Linked DNA regions of Homo sapiens. The protein of the gene in region 1 purifies or fractionates together with the protein of each later gene. This does not show direct contact. Each region holds a gene or a part of one and is shown on either strand. Other genes may lie near its edges. The genes, in order: DDX23, PRPF3, AAR2 and EFTUD2.

Region 1 (7,302 bases):
GCCTCCCAAAGTGCTGGTATTACAGGTGTGAGCCCAACTACACGTTTGTCAGTTAAAAACATATTTGTTTGGCCAGGCCTGGTGGCTCATGCCTGTAGTACCAGCACCTTGGGAGGCCAAGGCGGGAGGATCACTTAAGCCCAGGAGTTCGAGACCAGCCAGGGTAATATAGCAAGACTTCCCGTCTATTTTGAACAATAAAATTTTACATTTATAAACAGTTAAAAATCAGCCGGAGGCCAGGAGCAGTGGCTCACGCCTGTAATCCCAGCACTTTGGGAGGCTGAGATAGGCAGATCATGAGGTCAGGAGTTCGAGACCAGCCTGGCCAACAGGGTGAAACCCCGTCTCTACTAAAAATACAAAAATTAGCCAGGCGTGATGTCAGGCATCTGTAATCCCAGATACTCGGAAGGCTGAGGCAGAACTGCTTGAACCCAGGAGGTGCGGGTTGTTGTGAGCCGAGATAGTGCCACTGCACTAGCCTGGGTGACAGAGCAAGACTCCCTCTGTCTCGAGAGAAAAAAAAAAAAAAATCAGCCAGGTGTGGTGGTTCACACTTGTAATCCTAGCACTTTGGGAGGCTAGGGTGGGTGGAATGCCTGAGCTCAAAAGTGCTCAAGAGCTCATAGGCAGAGGCCTGGGAGGAAAATATCGTCCAGGAACACGGCTTGTGCCCCCAGGAGCCAATACTACCTATGGGGCCCATGCCCCTTCGCTCCTGCCTGGGGAGGATCACCTGAGCCCAGGCTGAGGTGGAAAGACTTCTTGACCCTGGGAAGCACTAATGCAGGAGGAATACTGATTCAGGATGAGTTCAGTGAGCTGGGCAGGAGTCAGATAATGAAAATGTGTTACAGGTCAGAGTAGAGTTAACTTGGATTTTAACTGCAATGGGGATCTTAGAAGAGCTTTAAACAGGAAGCAATCTAATACTTTGGTGACTTGCAAGAAAATATATAGCAGAGAGACAGAGTGAAAACACAACCACTGAGAGTGCTATTATGGTACTCTAGGCAAGAGATGGCAGTGGCTTGTTCTAGGAACGTGGCGATGGAGATGGAAAGAAGTAGGCAGCGTCAGAGTATATTTTGGAGGCAAAGCTAACAGGACTTACTAAGGAAGAAGCAGAAAGAGCAGACACAAAGATAGCTCCTAAATTTATAGTTTCAGCAACCTAATAGTTTGTGGTGCCATAGCAAACAAACTGGAGAAGACTAGGGAACGAACAGATTTAAGAGGAAATCAAACGTTTCATTTTGGCCAGGTTGAGTGTGAGAATATCTGTGGAGATTCCCAGAAGGCAAAGAGAAATGCAAATCTGAACTTAGGGGAGAGGGTCTGTAGACAAAAACTTGAGTCACCAATACACAGATAGCTTTTAAAGCCATGGGACACTAAATGATATTACCTAAGTAGGCAGCATAGTGAAAGAAAAAAAATAGAGAAGAAGCTCCAGAATTGAGCTCTGGAACACTTTAACAGGAGTTAGCCACGGGATGAACCAGAGAAAAAGACTGAAAAGAACTAGCAGCCAGTGAGAAAAGACAAAGAAAAGCATGGCAACGAAGAAGCCAAAAACATGTTTCAAGGAGGGAGGGGTCAACTGTGTCAAGTACCACCGAAGTGGAGAGGGAATAAGGGACAGGGAAGTAACCACTGAATTTGGAAAAATGGAGATTATTGGTGACCTTGACAAGAGCTGTTTCAGTTGCATTGCGGGAATGGAAGCCTGAGTGGAATGAGTTTGGAAGAGAATGAAAAATGAGAAGAAGACAGTAAATACAGGCAACTTTTATTACAGGTTCTATTATCACAAGGGCCAAATAACCAGGCTGACTCTGGCCATGCTTCCCAGCAGCCTTCCTCTCAAACCTCCAGATCTTCAGGTCCTCAGTTCTTGCAGGGCAGGGGCACATTCTTTTTTTTCACTCAATGACGTATTTAACAAGCATCTACTGTACGCAAGGCACAGTGCTAGGTGCTATGTGAGTTACAAAAATAAATTCTGTTCACAGGAAGTGTTTAGAACAACAGGGTTATGAGGTCGGACGCGGTGGCTCACGCATGTAATCCTAACACTTTAAGAGGCCGAGACAGGTGGATTGCCTGAGCTCAGGAGTTCGAGACCAGCCTGGGGAACACGGTGAAACCCCGTCTCTACTAAAAATACAAAAAATTAGCCGGGCGTGGCGGCGTGCGCCTGTAATCACAGCTACTCGGGAGGCTGAGACAGGAGAATCGCTTGAACCCGGGAGGCGGAGGTTGCAGAGAACCAAGATCGTGCCATTGCACTCCAGCCTAGGCGACAGAGCGAGACTCCGTCTCAAAAAAAAAAAGAAAAGAAAAGAAAAAAAAGAACAATAGGGGGTATGAGACACATACCAAGAAGAGTATCAAGGCTCAGATGTAGTAATACAGGTGTTCAAAGGCGTTTCCTTTCACTTGTAAAAGGTGATGTGGAAGGCTTGGAAGAGGAAGTGACGCTTGAGCTTTTAAGTATAAGTAGAATTTTAAGATATGTAATTAAGGACGCGGAAAAGAAGTCATTCCCGGCAAAAGAAATAATACGGCCGGCGCAGAGGCGGGAAAACATGGACTGACTGCGAGAGAAAAGCCAGAGTTCCAGTTTGGCTGCACCAAAGGCTACTTTAAGCATGAAAGAATAAGGTCAGACTGGGGGTATCAGAGGCGCTGTGCCCATAGGCAGAGTCCTGGGAGGAAAATATCGTGCAGGGACGTGGCCTGTGCCCGGAGGAGCCAACACTACCCCTGGGGCCCGCGCCCCTTCACTCCAGCCCGCCCGAGCTTCCCGGGTTCATGCCCCTTCTCTGAGGCGTTCTTTCCCGCCTCATCCAGGAGGCAGGGGCCACCGCCGTGCCCTGACTCTAGCCCTTTCTGTAAGCTCGTGGGAACCGCCTCCACCGCCCGGGACTCACCACCCTGAGTCTGAACCGCCCAACGCGGCCTCAACGTCGCGGAGCCGTCGCCATCTTTCCCGTTTCCTGGTCGCGGAGATGAACACCCCCCACCCCCCCGGCCGCGAGGCAAGCTGGGAAGGCGAGTTCCTGGAGCTGGGCGGCACAGGCCGACACTGAGGCCTGGAAACTACCAATCCCAGAATGCATGACTTGAGCGCCGGCCCCAGGCTGCGGGGTCTGCCGGGCAATGTGGTTTGCCAGACGTTAGCGTCCGGGAAGGAAGAGTTTTTCGCCAATAGGCTTTCGGCATTAGGTTCTCCCGCCGAGCACCCTTCTTGGAATCGGCTGGTCTTCCTAGAAACTACGGTCTATGACTGTCCTTGCCCGTGGCTTACAGTGGAGGAATTTAAGGGCTTCCTGAGATATCTGTAGTACGTAATTATAGCTAACAACCGCAGTAACAATAAATACCATTCGTGGAAAAGCGGTTTTTATAATAATTCTGTGAGAATGGGGCTAGCCCCATTTTACAGTTGGACAAACTAAAGATCAGGTTACCGGAGTAGGTTCACAAGGAGGGTGATGCAGTTCTCCATTGTGTGTGGAACTATCCCAGGCTTAGGAGGACGTTTTAGCAACCTTGGCCCCTGCAGCCGGGTGAATGCCATAACAACCCCCAGTTATTGTTACAGCTCCAAATGAGCCCACACAATGGGCTCTAAAGTCCTCCCGGAAGGATGGTATCTCCTGGGCTCTAGCACCTGTTTTCTCAACATTCCAGATGGAACCCTGGTTTCCTCAATTTCTTGCCCTTTGGAATGTGACCAATTGTTGAGCTATCTTGGTATTTTTGCTTCTTTCTTCCCCCAGATTCCCCTACTTCAGTCTTCCACTGAGTTTTGTTGTTGCTGTTGTTGTTGTTGTTGATGTTGTTGTTGTTGTTTTAACCTCAAATCGTAAGTTCACTTTGTGTTTCTCTTTGGTCTTATGGGTTCATAACTCTTTCCCTCAAAACAAAACAAAACATTGCAGTTGCGGAAACGGTTTAGATAACCAGAAGTATCTCGGACCTCCCTTCCCATTTTGCCAGCAGCAGGTTTGTTGCTTCAATTCCACATGGCTGTAGGTCTGCCTTTTCTCTCTGAATATGCCCAAGCTCTCAAGCAGAGCCTCAGGATAGACCCAAGTAATCCTAAAGCCCTGAGCATCACGTACAATGGCCCAAAGTAACCCTCGGAGACACACACTTCTCTTAGAACCTGCAGCCTTTCACCTCCCAGCTTCTACTCCAGAGAGAACGCAAGGGAAAGAAGAGAGCTCTGAGATCTGTTAGGTGTAATTCACCACAAAAGCACGAGAGGGCGCTCGACTCACAGATTCACAGATTAAACTAAGAATCAGACCAACCATGGTAGGCCAGAATCTTCAAAAACTGCAGCCACTTTTTATTGAGAATCTTCTAAGTGCTCAGCTCTGGGCTGGACACTTAACCTACCTTATTTGTTTTACTTAGTTCTCATAGCAGTATGAGATGAGTGCTATCTCCATTTTACTGGTAAGGAGATTGTGGCCCAGAAAGAGTAATTATGCCTTCAAAGGCCACATAGTTAAAAGAATGGGCCAGGTGAGGTGGCTCATGCTTGTATCTCAGCACTTTGGGAGGCCAAGACAGGAGGACTGCTTGAGCCCAGGAGGTCGAGGTCGCAGTGAGCCATGCTCGTGCCACTGCACTACAGCCTGGGTGACAGAGCAAAACCCTGACTGGAAAAAAAAAAAAAAGAAAGAAAGAAAAAAGAAAAGAAAAGAATGGAGCCAAAATTCAGGTTCATTTAACTTCAGAGTCCATTACCTTTCCCCATTTTCAGGCTGCCATCTCAACTCTCTTTAAATTGAGCTCCTGGAGGGTGATAAAGCTTGTCCCAGTTCATAGTGGCAGAGTTCCTCTAGTACTTGTGCGCACATCTCATGACACATGTAAGACATTGGGCTTCAAGGATACTTGTTATTTGTCTTGCCCCACTAGTTCTCTCACAAACATGAATCTTTGTTTTCTTATTTGTTTGTATTTTTATTTTATTTTATTTATTTATTTATTTTTGAGATGGAGTCTCGCTCTGTCGCCAAGCTGGAGTGCAGTGGTGCAATCTCGGCTCACTGCAATCTCCACCTCCCTGGTTCAAGCGATTCTCCTGCTTCAACCTCCCAAGTAGCTGGGATTACAGGCACATGCCACCACACCCAGCTAATTTTTGTATTTTCAGTAGGAACGGGGTTTCATCATGTTGGCCAGGATGGTCTCGATCTCCTGACCTCGTGATCCACCTGCCTCGGCCTCCCAAAGTGCTGGGATTACAGGCGTGAGACTCCACACCTGGCTTATTTACTTATTTATTTTTGAGACCGGGTTTCACTTTGTTGCCCAGGTTGAAGTGGAGTGGCACAAACAGCTCACTGCAGCCCTGACCTGGGCTCAAGTGATCCTCCTGCCTCAGCCTCCCAAGTAGCTGGGACCACAGGTGCACCCCATCATGCCTGGCTAATCGTTTTACTTTCTGTAGAGACAGGGTCTTGCAATGTTGTCCAGTTTGGTCTCAAACTCCTGGCCTCAAGCAATCCGCCCGGCTCGTCCTCCCAAAGTGCTAGAACTACAGGCACCAGTCACCACACCTAAACCATCATCTTTGGAGACAGAGACAGAGGGATGGTGTTCTAGTAAGAACCATAACTGGAGATACCTATTTAGGTACAACATGCCTACCAGTAAGGGGTCCATGGGATTTTGGTGAACAGTGAGTTCTGGTTTGAATCTTGGCTCAATTGCTTACTAGTACTGTGATCTTGTGCAAATTATATGGCATCTCTGGCTTTTCTCTTTCCTCATTACAAAACAGAGATAATAATACCACTTCCCTCACAGGACAGGACAGCAGAGCAAGTTAGAGTGCATGATGTGAAGCCAGATTGCCTGGATTTGTATCCATGTTCAACCACTTCCTAGCTGTGTGACCTTGTGCACGTTACCTAATCTCTCTGAACCTCGGTCTTCTTTTCTGTAAAATGAAGTAGATAGCGGCGGGGCGCCGTGGCTGACACCTGTAATCCCAGCACTTTGGGAGGCCAAGGTGGGTGGATCACCTGAGGTCGGGAGTTCGAAACCAGCCTGACCAACATGGAGAAACCTCGTCTCTACTAAAAAAACAAACAAACAAACAAACAAAAACAGAATTAGCCGGGCATGGTAGCACATGCCTGTAGTCCCTTGGGAGGCTGAGGCAGGAGAATCACTTGAACCCAGGAGGCAGAGGTTGCGGTGAGCCAAGATCGTGCCATTGCACTCCAGCCAGAGTGAAACTCCGTCTAAAAAAAAAAAAATAGCACCTCATAGGCTCATAGGGTTATCACAGGAATAAATAACATAGAAAGAACTCGTAAGTGGGGCCGGGCACCATGGTTTATGCCTGTAATCCCAGCACTTTGGAAGGCCGAGGCAGGAGGATCACTTGAGCCCAGAAGTTCAAGACCAGCCTGGGCAACATGGTGAAACCCCATCTCCACAAAAAATAGACTACTACTGTGGTACTCCTGTAGTCCTAGCTACCCAGGAGGCTGAGGTAGGAGGGTCAGGAGGGTGATCAGGACGGTGAACCAGGAGGGTGAGGTTGCAGTGAGCAGTGGTCATGCCACTGTACTCCAGCGTGGGCGACAGAGTGAGACCCTGTCTCAAAAAAAAAAAAAGAAAAATCTCGTAAGTGCCCCGACCCATAGTAAACATTTAACAAATGTTAGCTCTTATCATTTATGAGTCTAAATGTGATCATGTAAAGCCCTCAACACAGTGCACAGTGCTGAACACTCATTAAGTACATGCTAACTTTATTTATTTATTTATTTATTTAGAGATGGAGTCTCCCTCTTTTGCCCAGGTTGGAGTGCAGTGGCGCAATCTTGGCTCACTGCAACCTCTGCCTCCCGGGTTTAAGCGATTCTCCTGCCTCAGCCTCCCGAGTAGTTGGGATTACAGGCACGTGCCACCATGCCCGGCTAATTTTTGTATTTTAGTAGAGATGGGGTTTCACCGTGTTAGCCAGGATGGTCTCGATCTCCCGACCTTGTGATCCACCTGCCTCAGCCTCCCAAAGTTCTGGGATTACAGGCTTGAGCCACCGCGCCTGGCCTAGTACATGCTAACTTTATTTCTGGCACTAGCACTACACTATGGCACTTGGAAAACAAGAGCTATAAGTCACTGAGAAAGGAAGTTAAGAGTTAAGGCCCCTGAGCTGCCATCAGTAGGCATCGGAATTGGAAGGTCATGAAGGCAAATGTCACCTCTCCTTGAACTCAGAGGAGACCAGAATCCCAGGAGCCTCCCCCAGCTTTG
Region 2 (7,030 bases), on another chromosome or scaffold:
TCCTGATGTACTAACCATTTCCCTGGATCACTTTAGTCTTTTTTTTTTTTGTAGAGAGAGTCTTGCTTTGTCGCCCAGGCTGGAGTGCAGTGGTGCGATTTTGACTTGTTGCAAGCTCTACCTCCCTGGTTATTCCCCTGCCTCAGCCTCCCAAGTAGCTGGGATTACAGGCACATGCCACCACGCCCAGCTAATTTTTTTGTATTTTTAGTAGAGGCAGGGTTTCACCATGTTGGCCAGACTGGTCTCGAACTCTTGACCCCAGGCAGTCCATCCACCTTGGCCTCCCAAAGTGCTGGGATTACAGGCATGAGCCACTGCACCCAGCCCACTTTAGTCTTTTCTTATTCTCTAACTTGTCTCTTTTTTTTTTTTAGGTGTAGTATTGAGTCCTGTTTGAGCTATTGTTCTCTTTTTCCTGAAAAATGGCACTGTCAAAGAGGGAGCTGGATGAGCTGAAACCATGGATAGAGAAGACAGTGAAGAGGGTCCTGGGTTTCTCAGAGCCTACGGTGGTCACAGCAGCATTGAACTGTGTGGGGAAGGGCATGGACAAGAAGAAGGCAGCCGGTATGTACCTTTCTGCATCTTTTATCTTAACATATAGGGTGACCCCAAACACTGCTTTGAACTTCCTCAAAATTCTCTCTGTTGGGAACATCTAAAAAAATGGCAGGCCATATTTTATTTTCACCTGTATTATAGTGAAAATAGGCTAAATAATAATTTGCTTTTTCTCTTAATTGCTTATTTTTTATGTTATTTATGATAGATTTTAAATCTTCGTTTGGCTACCATACTGAGTCACCTAAGTTAGATTTACTTAGGAAGTATGCTTAAGTCAGATAGGCATATTCAGATTCAGACTGAACATCTCAACATACAAAAATCTTTATGAAATACATGAAAAAGCTTGAAGGAGGTAGATTTTGTTAATGGTAGGCTTCTACAACTTGCTATTTGGGAAAGGTGAGGGTGGTTATTCATCTCAAACTTGATGTTCAAGGTAAACAGGTTGCTCTAACTGCACCACTTCCCACGCCAAAAAATTATAACTATTTTCACCTCACAGGGCAAGGTCATTTAGTGTAAGAGAGATGGGAATCCTACAAAAAACTTAAAATTTGTTTCACTCCTGGGAATAAAATTCCAGTGTTGGTACCTGTTATAGGCCTAGTATTAGACTGTGTACTCTTACCTTTCCAACCCTACCACCGCCTTTCTTCCTGTCAGATCATCTGAAACCTTTTCTTGATGATTCTACTCTCCGATTTGTGGACAAACTGTTTGAGGCTGTGGAGGAAGGCCGAAGCTCTAGGCATTCCAAGTCTAGCAGTGACAGGAGCAGAAAACGAGAGCTAAAGGTAGGTTACAATTTACTGTCTAATGAGCTCAGGACTGTTTTGAATGGTAACAGAGTTGCTGAGCTTACCAGTTCACACGTTGATATCCTCTATTTAGAGCAGCAAATGTTCAAGAGAGGTACTTAGACATTAGAGTAGGAGAGATGAATTAGTGTCATCACCATCTGAACTACCTCTAAGTTCATGGGTTGAAATATCCAAAGAAATAATTGGCAGCTTTGTCTTTTTTTAGATAACAGGAGTTTTGATTCTCATGTTTCTCCATATTTCCTTTTTTTCCTTCTTACTGTTACTTATAAACTGATTGCTCTAAGATTTTATCTTTGATTTATTTGAGGCCTAATAAGTTGTTTTAGAATGTGACTCCACTGGTACCTGAGCTGTACACCTCATTGTTGCCTCTTTGTAGAGGTTTCTCTGCAATGCACTTGTAGATAGAATACCAAAAAATAACTATTATTTATTATATTCTTGAGAGCTTACCATTTGCTCTATGGCATATTGCTGGTCCTCTGCTGCCATGAGTGAAACACTTGGAGGAGTTGTCAGTACCCCCTTAACTACTACACTTTTTATTCTGTAGTTGCCGACTGATCCTGGCCTCTTTCAGTATTAGCAGTATCAAGTAGCCTATTTTTCTACTCATTTCCCAGTATCTCTCTTTAGGAGAAAAAAAAAAGTTCTGTGACTCCTATCAAACCTTCCAAAGTTCTTCTGATACCTTGGCTATCCCATTACTTTTCCTGAGGGAAAAGAGTGAATAAGTAATGTCTGCTTGGTCCCCTGGCCAGGCTATGGAACTAAAAAAAAAAGCAGAGAGATTTGTGCCCTTTGTGTTTGGAGCATTGTAGGGTGGTCAGAGAAGGAGAGATAGTCCTTGCCTTAAAACAATTTGTAATTTGTCAGGCAGTGTGGCATGTGCCTGTAATCCTAGCTACTTGGGAAGCTGAGGCAAGAGGATCTCTTGAGCCCAGGAGTTACAATTTAGAAGAGGCAGGGGTATCACAAAATATATATTCACGTATTATAAAATCTAAGTAGCAGTTTCATGTAAATTTTAGGGTTGGTTATAGAATTTCAGACCTATGTTGAATTTTGTTATATTTAAGGTGGAATGATTGATCCACAGTATACACAGATCTGTACAGTGAAGATTATGTCACGATAGGGCATACTTCTTTTTTTTTTTCCTTTTTTTTTTTCTAAGGGTGAGTCTCACTCTGTCGCCCAGGCTGGAGTACAGTAGCGCAATCTTGACTCACTGCAACTTCCACCTCCCAGGTTCAAGTGATTCTCCTGCCTCAGCCTCCTGAGTAGCTGGGATTACAGGCACATGCCACCATGCCTGGCTAATTTTTGTATTTTTAGTAGAGACGGGGTTTCATCATGTTGATCAGGTTGGTCTCGAACTCCTGACCTCAAGATCTGCTCGCCTCGGCCTCCCAAAGTGCTGGAATTACAGGCATGAGCCACTGCGCCTGGCCAGTAGGGCATACTTCTGTATGAGTGCTGAGGGCATGCTGTGAATGAAGTGACTACATTGGGTGGGATTAATAAAAATGGCTTCTTGAAGGAGGTGTCTAGATAGCCTTGGGATACGGGTCCCATTTTTGGTCCATTCAGGTCCCCACCCCACACAATATATTATGGGAGAGTCCTTTTTCTTGAACTGTAGGAGTTCCAGGAAGCGCTCGCCCCTGGCCGAGGATATGTCCTTGCAAAACACGAGCCCTCCTAGTGAAGAGGGGATGTCACCCAAAGCCTACCACCGGTGTGTACATTTGCTTTTTCCCATTGTCCCTTCCAGTTGGCCACTCTCGGTCCTGTTAAATTCACCTTGCAAATTAGTCATCATATTTGAGTTTCCATTGTTTGATGAAAACAAAGTGTTAATGGGGATTACTGAAGAAGAAAGAGAAAGCCCCTGTCCTGGAAGAGCTTAGACTTAGTTGGGAAAACTATACTAACATTGAAATACTTAACACTTGGCAAACAGAATATCAACAATGTAATTTAACCTAATATGAACCAAGCTCTTACACGCTAAGAGAATGTGAAACAAAAGTTTAATCAGAGTGGGATAGGTTATAATGAGGAAAACTTCTTGGAGGAGGTGAGTTTTAGGCAGGATTTGGAACAGGGGTTGTGGAAAAGTTGAGAGAAATCATTATAAATGTGAGCAGTAGCATTTGCAAAGACCTTGAGATGGGAACATTTATAAGAACATGGGAATGAAATTTGTTTGACTGGATTAGGAGAATGTTGAAGTTGGGTGAGATGGAGAGTCTAGTAGACCCTGCTTCTGGCAGGTGGCTATTTGCAAGGTTGTGTCATATTCCCCTGGGAATAGCCAGAAAATGCTGGTAGGGGCTAGGATAATTCTTCCCTTCTCCCCACGGGGAGGGATACAGCTTTTCTTTCATCTTGGGTTCCCTTAGGAGGTGTTTGGTGATGACTCTGAGATCTCTAAAGAATCATCAGGAGTAAAGAAGCGACGAATACCCCGTTTTGAGGAGGTGGAAGAAGAGCCAGAGGTGATCCCTGGGCCTCCATCAGAGAGCCCTGGCATGCTGACTAAGCTCCAGGTTAGTGATTAGGGACTGGAAGCAAAGTGGTTTTGTGAGTTGAAGAAGCAAAAGGTGCATGGGTCTGTATTTATTGTGGAATTTTTTTTTTTTTTTTTTTTTTGAGGTGGAGTTTTGCTCTTGTCACCCAGGCTGGAATACAGTGGCGCGATCTCAGCTCACTGCAACCTCCGCCTCCCGGGTTCAAGCAAATCTCCTGTCTCAGCCTACTGAGTAGCTGGGATTAGAGGCACCCACCACCAAGCCTGGCTAATTTTTGTATTTTTAGTAGAGATGGGGTTTCACCATGTTGGCCAGGCTGGTCTTGAACTCCTGATGTCAGGTGATGCACTCACCTTGGCCTCTCAGAGTGCTAGAATTACAGGAGCGAGCCACTGCGCCCGGCTAATTTTTTGTATTTCTTTTAGTAGAGACAGGGTTTCACCATGTTGGGCAGGCTGGTCTTCAACTTCTGACCTCAGGTCATCTGCCCACCTTCGCCTCCCAGAGTGCTGGGATTATAGGCGTGAGCCAGCGTGCCTCGCCTTATTGTGATCTTGATTTGAATTAGTGTTTAGCATTTGGGGTAAACTTTTTTTTTTGAGATAGAGTTTCACTCTGTTGCCCATGCTGGAGTGTAGTGGCGTGATCTCAGCTCACGGCAACCTCCACCTCCCAGGTTCAAGCGATTCTCCTGCCTAAGCCTCCGGAGTAGCTGGGACTACATGCGAACACCACTACGCCTGGCTAATTTTTGTATTTTTAGTACAGATGGTATTTTGTCATGTTGGCCAGGCTGCTCTGGAACTCCTGGCCTCAAGTGATCTGCCACCTCAGCCGCCCAAATGGCTGGGATTACAGGTGTGAGCCACCATGCCAGGCCAGCATTTGGGAAAATTTTATTTCCTGCTTTATGTTTTAGCGTTCTTTGATTTGACCAGGAGTATTCTAGGTAAGGGTATTGAAATTGCCATTTACTGTGGCAAGCAAAGTGTGTTATGTACATTATTTGCCTAATTACCTATGTCGTTGAGTCATTGAGAAAATTAAATGAAATGATCAGAACTCATCTTAATGACAGAGGAGACTCTCCAAACATAATGCAAAGAAGATATAATCCACTGATAAATAATTTTAAGTTGACTTTATTTTTTTTTAACAGGAAGTATTTGTGTTTTTTCAATTGGCATTGTTAAATAATACCACATAAGTGTTTCTTTTACCATTTAATATTTGAGGGGGGTAATAGAACATATACAGAAATATGGGTGGGTGGATTTGCATATATGTGATATTTACAGAAGGAAAGAAATGGATTTTTTTTGTGTGTGTGTGTGAGATGTTCTCTCTGTCACTCAGGCTGGAGCGCAGTGGTGCGATCTCGGTTCACTGCAGCCTCTGCCTCCCAGGTTCAAGTGATTCTCCTGCCTCAGCCTCCTAAGTAGCTGGGATTATAGGCATGTGCCACCACGCACGGCTAATTTTTGTATTTTTAGTAGAGACAGGGTTTCACCATGTTGACCAGGCTGGTCTGGAACTCCTGACCTCAAGTGATCTGCCTACCTTGGCCTCCCAAATTGCTGGGATTATAGGCGTGAGCCACCGTACCTAGCCTGTTTTTGTTTTTCAGGCAAGGTCTCACTTTTTTGTCCAGGCTGGAGTTCAGTGGCGAGATCTTGGCTTACTGCAACCTCTGCCTCCCGGGCTTGAGTGATCCTCCCACCTTGGCTTCCCAAGTAGCTGGGACTACAGGTCACCATGCCTGGCTGATTTTTGTATTTTTTTTAAAGATTGAGTTCCACCATGTTGCCCAGGCTGGTCTTGAACTCCTGGGCTGAAATGATCCTCCTGCCTCAGCCTCCCAAAGTGCTGGACTTACAGGCGTGAGCTACCACGCCCAGCCAATTATTTTCTTTTTTGGGGGGTGGGGGATGGAGTCTTGCTCTGTCACTTAGGCTGGAGTACGGTGGCGCGTTCTCGGCTCACTGCAACCTCTGCCTCCCGGGTTCACGCCATTCTCCTGCCTCAGCCTCCTGAGTAGCTGGGACTACAGGTATGTACCACCATGCCCGACTAATTTTTTGTATTTTTAGTAGAGATGGGGTTTCACCATGTTAGCCAGGATGGTCTTGATCTCCTGACCTCGTGATCCACCCGCCTCGGCCTCCCAAAGTGCTGGGATTACAGGCATGAGCCACCGTGCCAGGCCCAATGATGTTTTTTATGGAGAATGGGGATGGACGTATTCACAACATATCCTTTTGTTATGTTTCTTTCTTTTTTTTTTTTGAGACGGAGTCTCACTCTGTCGCCCAGAGTGGAGTGTAATGGCGCTATCTCGGCTCACTGCAACCTCCGCCTCCCGGGTTCAAGCTATTCTTCTGCCTCAGTCCCTTGAGTAGCTGGGATTACAGGCACGCGCCACCACGCCTAGCTAATTTTTTTGTATGTTTAGTAGAGACGGGGTTTCACCATGTTGGTCAGGCTGGTCTCGAACTCCTGACCTCGTGATCCGCCCGGCTCGGCCTCCCAAAGTGCTGGGATTACAGACGTGAGCTGCCAGGCCCAGCCTGTAATTTTTCATTTTATTTTATTTTATTTTTTGAGACGGAGTCTCGCTCTTGCACTGTTGCCTAGGCTGGAGTGCAATGCCGTGATCTCAGCTCACTGCAACGTCCGCCTCCTGGGTTCCAGCAGTTCTCCTGCCTCAGCCTCCTGAGTAGCTGAGATTACAGAACGTGCATCACCATGTCCAGCTAATTTTTGTATTTTTAGTAGAGATGGGGTTTCACCCTGTTAGCCAGGATGGTCTCGATCTCCTGACCTCGTGATCCACCTGCCTCAGCCTCCCAAAGTATTGGGATTACAGGCGTGAGCCACCACGCCCAGCCCTGTAATTTTTAATTTTTTTATTTTCTTTCTTTCTTTACTTATTTAGAGATGGAGTCTCCCCCTGTTGTCCAGGCTGGAGTGCAGTGGCATGATCTTGGCTCACTGTAACCTCCACCTTCTGGATTCAAGCGCTTCTCCTGCCTCAGCCTCCTGAGTAGCTGGCATTACAGGCGCCCACCACCACACCCGGCTAATTTTTGTATTTTTACT
Region 3 (6,981 bases), on another chromosome or scaffold:
TCCACCGTCCATTCTTAATATCTTCTCAGATCTCTTTCTCACAACAGAGGGTGAGGGTGGAAAATGCCTGGACAGGTCACTCTAAACTATATGCCTACATCATTTAAAACTACAATTCTGCCAAAAAACTATCCCAAAAGATTTGGAAAGATTAAATCAAGTACATATCCAGTTTCCCATAAGCCTCAGGGAAGGCCCAGAAATGGACAGACGGTAGCAAGTGGAGGCTCAGCATCTAAAGTTTGTTCAGGGTCTAGAGAGCTTTCCTACCACAAATCTCCCCTCTTCTTTCACTCATAAAAAACCTAAACTCCAGGGAGTGAAACAACTTCCCAAAGAGCCCACAATCAGTGGTGGCTCTGGACCATTCATCCAGAATGAATTCAGGTGGTAAAGCTAGCCTAGGAAGAGAAAGCTGGCCAGAAGAGAAAGAGCTTAGTACACTTATTTTACCTACTTCTGAATATCCCAGACATTGCCTCTGGGATATCGGCAAGAATGGTACCAACATGAACAAATGTAAACAAACCATTATGCAACCTTCTAGTCCTAAGATACCTACCTGACTAATTTAACAAATACTCACTGAGTGCCTGCATTGTGCCAGGATCTTTGCCAGGCCCCCAAAAAACATCACAGATTAAGACAGTCACTGCCCTCTAGGCAATTCCAATCTAGCCAAGACGTCAAAATTTCACACACAGAAAAACGAGCTGCCTGTTTAATTGTTTACTTTTTTTTTTTTTTTTTTTGAGACAGGGTCTCGCTCTGTCACCCCAGCTGGAGTGCAGTGGCGTGATCTCGGCTCACTACATCGTCCACCTCCCGGGTTCAAGCAATTCTTGTGCCTCAGCCTCCCAAGCAGCTGAGACTACCGGTGTGTGCCACCACACCTGGCTAAGTTTTGTATTTTTAGTACAGAGAGGGTCTCACCATGTGGCCTAGGCTAGTCTGGAACTCCTGACCTCAGTGATCTGCCCGCCTCGGCCTCCCAAAGTGCTGAGATAACAGGTGTGAGCCACCATGCCTGGCCCTGTTTACCCTTTTTACTTTAAATAAAGCAGTGCAGAAAGGAAGACCAATCCTTTTCCAAAAATAAGAGCACATTTTATCATTGTTACCTCAAAACCACCACAAATGACTCTTACCCTGAATCAGCACTTTGTGTTTCACCAAACTGCAAGTCACAATCCATTAGTGGATTAGGAAATCAATGTGAAGGTCTCAACCAGCATTATTTTTTAAACGAAAATAACAGAATTTTTGAAATATCACAATACATCATGAGTAGTAAAGCTAAGTACTGTTTTCTGGAGCTTTGTGTGTTTGTGTGTATACTTGGTTGTGCCATAAAATGTATTCGTTACTGTAGGTCACAGTCATAAAAGTTTGAAAGACTCTGCTCTAAATAATTCGTATCAACAGGCCGGGCGTGGTGGCTCACGCCTGTAATCACAGCACTTTGGGAGGCCGAGGCGGATGGATAATGAGGTCAGGAGTTTGAGACCAGCCTGGCCAATACTGTGAAACCCCATCTCTACTAAAAATACAAAAAAAATTAGCCGCGCATGGTGGTGTGCGCCAGTAGTCCCAGCTACTTGAGAAGCTGAGGCAGAAGAATTGCTTGAACCTGGGAGGCAGAGGTTGCAGTGAGCTGAGATCACACCACTGCACTCCAGCCTGGGGGTCTGAGCGAATTCCGTCTCAAAATAATAATAATAATAATAATAATAATAATAATAATAATAATAATAATACGTATCATCTTCCTATTTGTAATCCTGAATTCAGAAAGTATTTAATATTTGCTGAATGAACAGATATTCCATTTACAATAACAGCTCATCAATTAGCCATTTTCCCTTGTGACATCTGTGTGCTCCTCCTTGATAATGACGTTTCTTTCATGCTAATTCCACCAGTCTGTAATTCTATTCACTATATCTCCAGCAGCTGGCACAGGGCCTAGCACAGAGGAGATGCTAGGAAAACGTTTATTAAATATGCATAGAACTCTGCAGTCTACCAGCCCCTGTCACTGACAGCTCTGTGAGTTCCTCACAGTCCTGGAACACCTAAAGTCACATCCATCCACTTCTCTCCACCACCTCCCTAATCCAAGCTACCATCGTCCCTCACTCAGAGTGCTTGCTCCTCAACCCATTCTCCATTCAACAGCAGTAACCTTTTCAAAATGCCAATCTAATCACAACACCACCCATGTCAGCTTCTGAGTGGTTTCCCATATGGTTCTTGAAAAACCAGAATTCTTCCTATTACCTACAAAGCCTGCACGGTCTGACTCCTGGCAACCCCTTTAGCTTGTGTCACACAATGGTCCCCCACAAGCTCTCTGTTCCAGCCACAACGGCCTCTTTCAGAACCTGAAATTGGAGGCTGTCTCCATATAGAAAACTCTTCCCTCCCCACTTTGTCAAATCCTTTTTTCTGATCTCAGCTCAATATTCACCTCCTCAGTAAAGGTTCCTTGCCCTGGGGCTAGGTCAGGTCTCCTGTGATATAATCTGGGGTGCCTTGTACCTTTCCGTCTCAATGATCACAACTGCAGTTTTGGATGTTTGATTGAAGGCTGTCATCGCCACGAGACTTGAGTCCTGCTGTATCCCTAGCACAGATTCAACGCTTAGTAAACATTTATTTAATACAAGTATGATATCCATTTTGTAAACGAGAAACAAAGCCTCAGTTCGGGGAAAGACCTTACTGGAAGTCACGCAGAGAGTAGGGCAGAGCCAGGTCGAGTGCAATCAGGGTCTCCGGCCCCCAGGCTCTAAAGTTAAGAAAACCGCGACGTAACTCTGGCGACGGCTTCTCAGGAAGGGCCTCCAGAGACACCAGCGTCCCACAAACAGAGAACCAGCCGCCCCGGCGAGGTGGGCCTAGTTCAAGGCACTCCGTGACTCTGAGCCGAGAAGAGGGGCGGCCCAGCCACACATACACAAGGAATCAGGAAAGGAAAAAGAGGCCAGGAGGCCACACTCACCGCCTCGCCCCACGTTCCGGTACAGCGGAAACGCACCGGAAGTTCTCCAGCTTTGGCGTCTGACTGGAGCGACGGGGGAAGCGGTCCGGCAGAGCCCTGGGTCGCGGGAAGAATGGCCCGTGCCTGCAGGTTCCGCCGGATGCAAGGTTGCCTTTTGTTATTCTTAGTTTCTCGTTTTAGCTTCTGAATTGTGAACAACTTTCATTAACCTATGCATTTTATATCCCCGTCCAGAAACACAGCCACCAGCCATCTTACTTTGGGCTCAAGCAGTCATGGTCACTAAAGCACAGCCAAGGCTTGTACCAGTGGCTACTATTCAGAAGTAGCCAGTCAGGCGCTCGGTCACTGTCTTTGTCAGCCAGTCTCTATCCCGGTCACAGTGTCTCAGCTTCCAGTCACACTCAGCCCTCGGGGAGAGCCTCAGAAACCCAGCCACCAGCCCAGAGAGAACCAGCGTCAGCCTCCGCTGCTGCAGCAGCAGCGGTCGCCACCTCAGTCCCTCTGGCCATTATCACCCCGTGTCCTTCCTGCAGGCCAAGTCCTAACATCTCAGTCAGGCTATCAACGCACTAGGGAAGGAATCTGCCTGTCTTGTTCCTCACTGTTTCCCTGGAACCGAGCACAAAGCCAGGCACAAAAGCTCAGCTGAGTACATATATTATGCATTTAATTAATAATGATGATAATTTGGTATTAATAAATAACTATTTGTGGGTCTAACCCTGCACTATTAATCAGGGTTCCACCAAAGATACAGAGCCAGTAGGAGATCTATATTAAGTGATTTATTGCCAAGAATTGGCTTATGTGATTTTAGGGCAGGCCACTTGGGTATTTCTTTTTTTGAGACGCAATCTCACTCTGTCACCCAGGCTGGAGTGCAATGGCGCTATCTCGGCTCACTGCAACCTCCACCTCCTGGGTTCAAGCCATTCTCCTGCCTCAGCCTCCCAAGTAGCTGGGATTACAGGCGCCCACCACCGTGCCTGGCTAATTTTTGTATTTTTAGTAGAGACGGGGTTTCATCTTGTTGGCCAGGCTGGTTTCGAACTCCTGACCTCAGGTGATCTGCCCACCTTGGCCTCTCAAAGTGCTGGGATTACAGGCATGAGCCACCGTGCCCGGCCCACTTGGGTATTTATAATCCTTGCACTAACCCTTGTAAGGTATGTGTATTCCCAATTTGCAGAAGAGAAAACTGAGGTTCAAAGAGATGTTACACAGCCAGAGAATGGCAGAGCTAGAATGCAAACCAAGGGCTGTCTGTTCTTATCTCTTGTGCTGCTGCTCCTTAGCTTGTCTGTCACATTTCCTCAGTGACAGCTGGACACGCCAATCTGTCTCGGTCAAAATTTATCTCTTAGTGGGTTGCAGACTAGACCGGGCCCTGCAGTCATGGTTAATCACAATGAGCTGCTGCAGGATTAACCAGAGACAGCCTCCATCAGTCACAGTCATGCTTACCAATCTCAGCCTGTCCTGTCAAGTTTCATCTCCTGCATGAAGAAGCTCAGCTCCCTCTCCACCCCTCCCCACTCCCAGTCTTAAGTGCTGAGCTCTATGGTCTGGTCTCAAAGCTCCCTGTTTCAGTTGGGCTCACCGTCTTTTCAGAGACTCCAGGACACTGAACACTGGTTGTAGAAGCTGTAAATGGTGGCCTAGGAGTCCCACCTTGTGGGTCACATGTCCATTTAGATCAGAATTTCTCAACCTTGGCACTATTGACATTTGGGGCCAGATAAGTATTTGTTGTATGTGGCTGTCCTGTGCATTGTAGGATGTTTAGCAGCAACCCTGGCGTCTACCCACTAGAGCTAGTAGCACCCCTCAGTTGTGACAACCATTGCTAAATGTCCCCGGGGCGGGGGTTGGGGGTAAAGGAGGAGGGGTCATTTCCCCACTCTCAATGCAGTTGAAAAACACTAATCTGGGTGAACTTACCTTTGATTATTCGACAAAAGCCGAGTCAGGATGGTCCTTTATGGGAGACAGAAATATGGATCAGGGTGTATGGGGTCCTGAGGAATCATATGAAGACCCATTGTTTGTAAACCAAGTCCTATTCCAGAACCCTAGGGATAACAGATTGCTAAAGGAGACCTATAGGGAAAATTCAGAGAAGGATTCATAATGTTCCTCGCAGCAATTGCCTCTGACAAGAGACAGAAATCTGGAGAAGGCTGAAGAATCACTTTTCACTGCATAGTCTTTGTATCATTTAATGAATTACCTTTCCAAAGAAAATAAGTATTTAGTATTTGAAAGTATACGGAAATGCTCAGGATATATATACGTGTATATAGATATATATGTACATATATATACATATATGTACATATATATATTTTAAAGTATTTACAAAAGTATGTACAAGATGACCAACTCTGGAAAAATACATACACATGGAAAAGACTCGCTGGTGAGATTTGCAGCAATAAAGGTGGGCTGAGGTGAGTTGCTTGGTGGAATAAAAGGAAAGTGTGGTGTGTGCACCTCAGGTGGTCCAAGGGATGAGTTTAGGTTTTAAGTGCATTGTGGTTGTTAATTTTAATATTTTTGCATTTATTTTATGAAGACCTCCTTTCTTGGCAAATAACATAAGCTTTTCATTTGTGGAAGTAATATAGTTTCCTTTTTAAATGCATTTGCTTTTAACGTGAGTCAATTTATTTAGTTAGTTATTTTATTTTATTATTTTTTTGAGACGGAGTCTCTCTCTGTCACCCAGGCTGGAGTGCAGTAGCACGATCTCGGCTCACTGCAACCTCCGCCTCCTGGGTTCAAGCGATTCTCCCGCCTCAGCCTCCCGAGTAGCTGGGATTACAGGTGTGCACCACCACACCCGGCTAATTTTTTGTATTTTTAGTAGAGATGGGATTTCACTATGTGGGCCAGGCTGGTCTTGAACTCCTGACCTCAGGTAATCTGCCTGCCTCAGCCTCTCAAAGTGCTGGGATTACAGGCGTGAGCCACTGCACTTGACCTGAGTCAATTTAAAGAAAAATAAGTGAATAATGGGACAGGTGGTATGAGGATATGGGAACATATATAGAGGTTCTGGGCAAAGGCCGAAGTTGAGGATTGCTGTATTTTTTCCCACTAGGCTCCCATGTAGGGGGGTTACAGGAAGAGAGACTCCAATGTAGGTACTCTTCTTTCAGGAGGAGGGACCATGCTGTTTCTCCGCTCAATAAGCCCCTCCACGTCCTGGGGCCTGTATGCTTACTGTTCCCTCTCCTAGAATGTGCACCAAAGTTCCTCGCCTTTGTTGATTGATCCTTCTTTTCATTCAGCTCACAGATCGCCTCCTCAGGGAGGCCTTACCTGGCCACTGTATTTAAAGTGGTCTCCTTCAGTGACCCTCCTTCCCTTCTCCCGGTGTATTTCCTTCCTAGTGCTGAGTGCTCTGTAACGGACTGTTTGCCTGTGTTGGCATCTGTTTCCTCCACTAGCCTGTGGGTTCATGAAGGGCAGGGACTTTTGTCTTGTTTGTGTTGTGCCTGGAGAGTCACCCAAGGCCTGGACCACCTTGAGTTCCAAATATTTGTTGCATAAACATGTTCTAAGTTGGGATGTCTCCACTTCAGTTTTAGCCCCTCCCACAGTGCCAACTTGTACCAGTGGCCAAAGTCAGAGAGAGACAGTGAGAGAGAGAGAGAGAGAGAGAGAGAGAGAGAGAGAGAGGAGAGGTGCCAAGGAAGTATGGTTCAGCATCAAACACATTTATTTCACTTATATTGAGTATACAAGAACAGAGAGCACACGCATACAGCACGGAGCACTGAGGTGGGGGAGCATGGGGACGAGAAAGGAGAGAAGGGTGTGAGTAAAAAGGAACAGGACAGCATCGCAATTGGTTGTTAAGGTGCTTTTGAAAAAAAAAATTATTTCGAGTGATGTTGCTCATGCAGTTTCAGGCCAGTCTTGGAATGTGCTTGCAGGATTCAAAAACTGAAACAGGTCCTGGTACTTCC
Region 4 (5,028 bases), on another chromosome or scaffold:
GGGCAAAACCGATTATGCAGTTTGTAGGTCTTTAAGTCCCAACAATTAAAAGGACTGTGCTTGGCTGGGCGCGGTGGTTCACGCCTGTAATCTCAACACTTTGGGAGGCCAAGGCGGGCAGATCATGAGGTCTGGAGAGAGAGACCATCCTGGCCAACATGGTGAAACCCCATATCTACTAAAAATACAAAAATTAGCTGGGCGTGGCGGCAGGTGCCTTTAGTCCCAGCTACTCTGGAGGCTTCGGCAGGAGAATTGCTTGAACCTGGGAGGCGGAGGCTACAGTGGGCTGAGATCCGCCACTGCACTCCAGCCCGGGTGACAGAGTGAGACTCTGTCTCAAAAAAAAAAAAAAAAAAAAAAAAGGACTGTGAATTAAGTTCTCCTGTTCTGGGCTCCACATCACATGCTTGGTGAAGCCCCTATACTGAGCCATCTTCCCTGTTTAGGCTCCTGTCCCAGGCCTGTGGGGACAGTGTCTCATGACAGTTTGCCCTAGGGGTGAGAAAAATCATGCAACAGAACAGATGTTGAATTTCTCTTCCTCTTGAGATTAAAAAGCAGACAGCCACTTGCTAACTGTGTGACAGTGGACAAATCTTTCTCACTGAGCCTCAGTTTCCTGATGTGTAACATGACAATAACCACCCCTGGCCTGCCTACCTTGCAGGCTGCTGTGAGGTTTCTCAGATACACAATACATGTGAAAGTGTTTCGTGAACTGTCAGATAAGTGGTTTCCCCAGGTTGTGTGGTCAGATGCTTGAAGCAGCTGTTGGGACCTGGGGCAGAAAGATGAGCGGGAAGCTGGACTCTCAAGGGAGCAGCTAGAGGTGAACCCCTAGGACGCCTGAGAGCCAGAGGACGGGTGAAGGGTTTGATGCCAAGGGGCATTATTTCTTTTCTCTCACACAGGTGCTGTGTACACAATGTACAGCGATTACGTCAAGAGGATGGCACAGGATGCTGGAGAGAAGTAGGACTCCTATAGGAGCCGGGGCTGTCCAACTCCCCTAACTCAATCCCTGGTACATTCCTAATAAAGCAGTTTTGAGGAAAATCAACAGACTCTTTTTCACTGGGGGAGAACAGAGTAAGGGACTGGTGGTAGCTGGGGAGAGGACTTGGAGTAAATGGCTGGAAATCAAAGTGCTCTGGCCCCCTACTCCAGGGCAAGGAAGATTCTTAGGGGAGGCAGCAGTTTCCTGAGGAGGTGGTGGGGTAGACTTCTGATCGCAGGAACCCAACAACTCCCAAGCCATCTTAGGTTCCACCCAGAAGCAGCATGGAGTGGGAGCAAGGGGGCAATAATGGGGCCTTGGCGCTCATGGGAACACTGAATTAAAAGGCAGGCGGCTTCCCTGGGGACCCAGGCAGGAAGGAGGCTGCAGCTGGAAGCAGAGGCAGTGAAGCCTCTTGGGAGATGACATATATTCAGAATGTAAGCACCAGACGGGGCAGGGGAGACGAGGATGAAAGGAGCAGAGCAAGACAGAGGTCAGAATGTTCTGTTCACTTGCAAACCATGGCTAAGGTCAAACTTGTAGAAAATAAAATTCCATGTAAATCCCAAAGATAGGGCCCCTTGGGGTTTCATCCCCTTCTCTTTCTGTGAGCCCAAGCTCCTCTCTTTTCCTTGGGAATGGAGCCCGGCAGAGGCCACAGAAGGAAGCAGGAGGCCAAATGCTCCTCTCTCACTGGGGCTCTGGGTTGGAGGTTGGTGAGTTGTTCAAGATGGCAACAGCAGCTTCCAGACACTCTCTGACAACACGAAGGCCACGTCATATGAGGTCTCAGCTTCAAGTACAGGAGTTGCAGCCCACTGTAGGGAGCAGGAGCTCCCAGGAGTCCACGCACTCACATGGGGTAATTGAGCACAACATCCTGTTTGGCAAGTTCCAGCAACATAGGATCATCGAAGAATTTGCTGATGCTCACATCTTCACTGAGGCCCTGCAGGGAATGGGGCAAATATAAGAAAGCCCGAGGTGGTCGCAGACTAAGCAAGGAGACTATCCAAGACCTGTGTTCAGTGGGGAGGCTAGTGGTGGCTGGAATGTAGGTGGTGGTGTTTCAGGAGCCCTGCCTTTAGGGTACTATCACATGGGAGGATAAGGCTCTCCTTTCCCAACGAGACTGGGGCCCAGGTTTGGTTGCCTAAGGAGTATACAGATCATATCTCTACATTGGAAAAGTGTCCCTTAGGAAAAGGGGCCAAAAGAAAGAGAGAGAGATCCTGCTTCTGAGAGTCCTGGGGGGTTGAGGGATGGCAACAGGCCCAAGGGAGACATACCTTCCTACGGCGGGTTTTGATCATGAATTCCCGGGCCAGGTGAGGAGCTGGCTGTGGCTCCAAGGGGCGGATGACAATGCTCTTGTCCAGGGGATCACCAGGCACAATCTAAAAGGCAAAGGAATTTCAGATGGCCCAGGCAGAATTCCCAGAAGATTCAGGCCCAGAAGCAGGACTCTTCTTATTTATTTTATTCCTAAATTTATTACTTATTATTATTTTTTTGAGATGGAGTTTCGCTCTTGTCTCCCAGGCTGGAGTACAATGGCATGATCTCGGCTCAATGCAACCTCCGCCTCCCGGGTTCAAGCGATTCTCCTACCTCAGCCTCCCAAGTAGCTGGGATTACAGGCATGCACCACCACGCCTAGCTAATTTTATATTTTTAGTACAGATGGGGTTTCTGCATGTTGGTCAAGCTGGTCTCGAACTCCTGACCTCAGGTGACCTGCCCGCCTCAGCCTCCCAAAGTGCTGGGATTACAGGTGTGAACCACCATAGCCGGCCCTATTATTTCTTTTTTTTTTTTTAAACTGAGAGACACAGATTCAAGTTGCCCTGAATATATGCTCCCCAGAGGAGGACTCTTCTCCAGGATGCTGTACACCTCACTTAGGGCTTGGAGAGGGATCAGGACAGAAGGGGATGAGGCTTGCAGAGGTGGGAAGCCAAGTCCGCCAGCCTGCATTGCTTTCTCACCTGCCAGTGGTGGAAGACAGACAGAGAAAAGGCTTGTCCCTGGGTGTGAGTCCGGAGATCAGTCTCAAAGCCAAAAGAGTCGATGGCCGGGATAAAAGCTTTGATGGTGTACAGAGGGGAGCCTGGGATGGGTGCATCCTGAGTCACGTGCCCCCTGAGACAGAAAAACAAAGGCTGAGCCTCTAGTCAAACATAGGCCAAAAGCCAAGAAGCAATCCAGCATTTGCTGTCCCCCAAATGCATTCCAGCCCAGAGTTACCATCAAAGAAAGAGTAACCAAGAATGTTCTACAAAAAGCAGAAAAGGCTCAGGGCTCTCAGTATAATTCCCTGTGGAAGTCAAAGTGGCAGCAACCTCTGGGCAGAGGACAGGAGTGGGATGGTGAAGGGACAAGGGCCCAAAGACATTCCCATCACTGACTTGCCTCAGCACTGCCTCCAACAGCTCTGTGAGGAGGGGATCCCAAAAGAAATGTCAATTTTTTTTTTTTGAGACAGAGCCTTGCTCTGTCGCCCAGGCTGGAATGCAGTGGCGCCATCTCGGCTCACTGCAAGCTCCGCCTCCTGGGTTCACGCCATTCTCCTGACTCAGCCTCCCAAGTAGCTGGGACTACAGGCACCCGCCACCACGCCCAGCTAATTTTTTGTATTTTTAGTAGAGACGGGGTTTCACTGTGTTAGCCAGGATGGAGAAATGTCAAATTTTAATCTGCAGAAAAGCGGGGGCTTGCCTCCCTCCGCTCCTACTTCTTTCTGGAAAATCAGCTCTCGGGGTTTCCAGAGAGAGGAGGGTAGAGAAGGCCAACCTCTCTTCCCTGTAGGAGCCGAGGTGACTCTTGTTCTGCTCTTGCTCTCAGCACTCTCCCTAATACGCCTGGGGCCGCTCACCTGCGCCTGGCCAGGACGGTATAAACTGCAGAGACGCAATCTGCAGGGGCCTGGACCTCTACAAAGTAGTAAGGCTCCATCAGACGAGGAGTAGCCTGCAGCAGAGCAAGAAGAAAGGCCCCTCAGCTTGGGGAAGGCTGGGGGCCTATAGTCCCACTTGCTCCTTCACTTAGTCCCCTGTCCAGTGAAGCAGATGGTCCCCTACCGCCCCATTCTCTTACCATGAGGAAGGCAGAGTAGACGACTCTCCTGGCTGTGGGGATGATCTGGCCCCCGCCCCGGTGCAGGGGCTCCTGGGCAACCACCGCATCCAGGATCTTAAACTTGACATTCCGAATCACTGTAAAGGAGGTGGAGGGAGTGACTGGGGAGAGGTTCTGGGCCTGTCATGGGGCCATGGCAGAGTAGCAGTCTCCTGCAACACTGCAGCTGTCTTGCAGTCATGAAAGACATGGTACAGAAATCAAATGGGAGGTGGGCGTTCTAACTGAATAAGCAAGGCCCATGGCAGAGGTCAGAAGTTAAGCATATGTTCTTAGTGTTTGCTTCAGGCCATGCTCAGACTTAGAGCTTTCCTAGAAGTTTATTTCCTTCTTCTGCACATATTTACATTTTTGTGGATGTAGAATAAATTCCAGAATTGTACATTTGGTCCATGAAGCCCAATCAGGGTCTATAAACCATTCCAATCTCATCATCCTCTTGATATCTCTTCTCAAATACGTCCAACGCCAAACCCTTCTCAGAAATGAGGAGCAAATGACAGTTTAGAAATGACTTAAATTTCCATTTCCAGGCTACACCACCAGGATAAGGAAGGAAAAGGGAAGAAGCTGGCCCAGGACTTGGGATGGTCCTGTGTACCCCAAGCTGCTTCTCCTGCCGAATCCTAAAGATGGTGAGCCCATCCCACTCATATGCCTGGCTGCAAGGACCCTCGAGGACTGGGGTGGGGGAGTGCTGGTGGACTTACATTCATCACAGAGGGGGCCCTCCCTGGTTCCCCACTGGAAACCTTGAACGATGCTGTCCTTCACTGAACCAAGAAGAGCCTTGTCCACCTATAGAGAAACATGAGGCCTCCTTAGCAGTCGCCCTGGCAACGGCTGAAGCATTTAGAGGGAGAAGACAGATGTGCCTGTAAGGGGAT

The links.
Region 2: the proteins of DDX23 (region 1) and PRPF3 purify together in Homo sapiens (affinity purification with mass spectrometry; 4 studies listed by BioGRID and IntAct, with this or other methods). This does not show direct contact.
Region 3: the proteins of DDX23 (region 1) and AAR2 purify together in Homo sapiens (affinity purification with mass spectrometry; 5 studies listed by BioGRID and IntAct, with this or other methods). This does not show direct contact.
Region 4: the proteins of DDX23 (region 1) and EFTUD2 purify together in Homo sapiens (affinity purification with mass spectrometry; 8 studies listed by BioGRID and IntAct, with this or other methods). This does not show direct contact.

What each region holds. Positions count from the first base shown.
Region 1 is NC_000012.12:48,849,145-48,856,446, forward strand, and holds the start of DDX23 (probable ATP-dependent RNA helicase DDX23), read right to left. Parts: upstream 3,020-7,302; 5' UTR 2,940-3,019; exon of another isoform or gene 2,906-2,939; intron 2,671-2,905; exon of another isoform or gene 2,577-2,670; intron 1-2,576. UniProt on the Homo sapiens protein: Involved in pre-mRNA splicing and its phosphorylated form (by SRPK2) is required for spliceosomal B complex formation.
Region 2 is NC_000001.11:150,324,518-150,331,547, forward strand, and holds part of PRPF3 (U4/U6 small nuclear ribonucleoprotein Prp3), read left to right. Parts: intron 1-377; 5' UTR 378-425; coding exon 426-570; intron 571-1,233; coding exon 1,234-1,364; intron 1,365-3,039; exon of another isoform or gene 3,040-3,135; intron 3,136-3,802; coding exon 3,803-3,949; intron 3,950-5,934; exon of another isoform or gene 5,935-5,981; intron 5,982-7,030. UniProt on the Homo sapiens protein: Plays a role in pre-mRNA splicing as component of the U4/U6-U5 tri-snRNP complex that is involved in spliceosome assembly, and as component of the precatalytic spliceosome (spliceosome B complex).
Region 3 is NC_000020.11:36,232,527-36,239,507, reverse strand, and holds the start of AAR2 (protein AAR2 homolog), read right to left. Parts: upstream 3,031-6,981; 5' UTR 3,005-3,030; exon of another isoform or gene 2,726-3,004; intron 2,627-2,725; exon of another isoform or gene 2,471-2,626; intron 1-2,470. UniProt on the Homo sapiens protein: Component of the U5 snRNP complex that is required for spliceosome assembly and for pre-mRNA splicing.
Region 4 is NC_000017.11:44,849,418-44,854,445, forward strand, and holds the end of EFTUD2 (116 kDa U5 small nuclear ribonucleoprotein component), read right to left. Parts: intron 4,940-5,028; coding exon 4,852-4,939; intron 4,219-4,851; coding exon 4,100-4,218; intron 3,974-4,099; coding exon 3,879-3,973; intron 3,146-3,878; coding exon 2,992-3,145; intron 2,401-2,991; coding exon 2,293-2,400; intron 1,953-2,292; coding exon 1,857-1,952; 3' UTR 980-1,856; coding exon of another isoform or gene 915-979; 3' UTR 531-914; downstream 1-530. Other genes in the region: HIGD1B (HIG1 domain family member 1B), read left to right, coding at 915-979. UniProt on the Homo sapiens protein: Required for pre-mRNA splicing as component of the spliceosome, including pre-catalytic, catalytic and post-catalytic spliceosomal complexes. Component of the U5 snRNP and the U4/U6-U5 tri-snRNP complex, a building block of the spliceosome.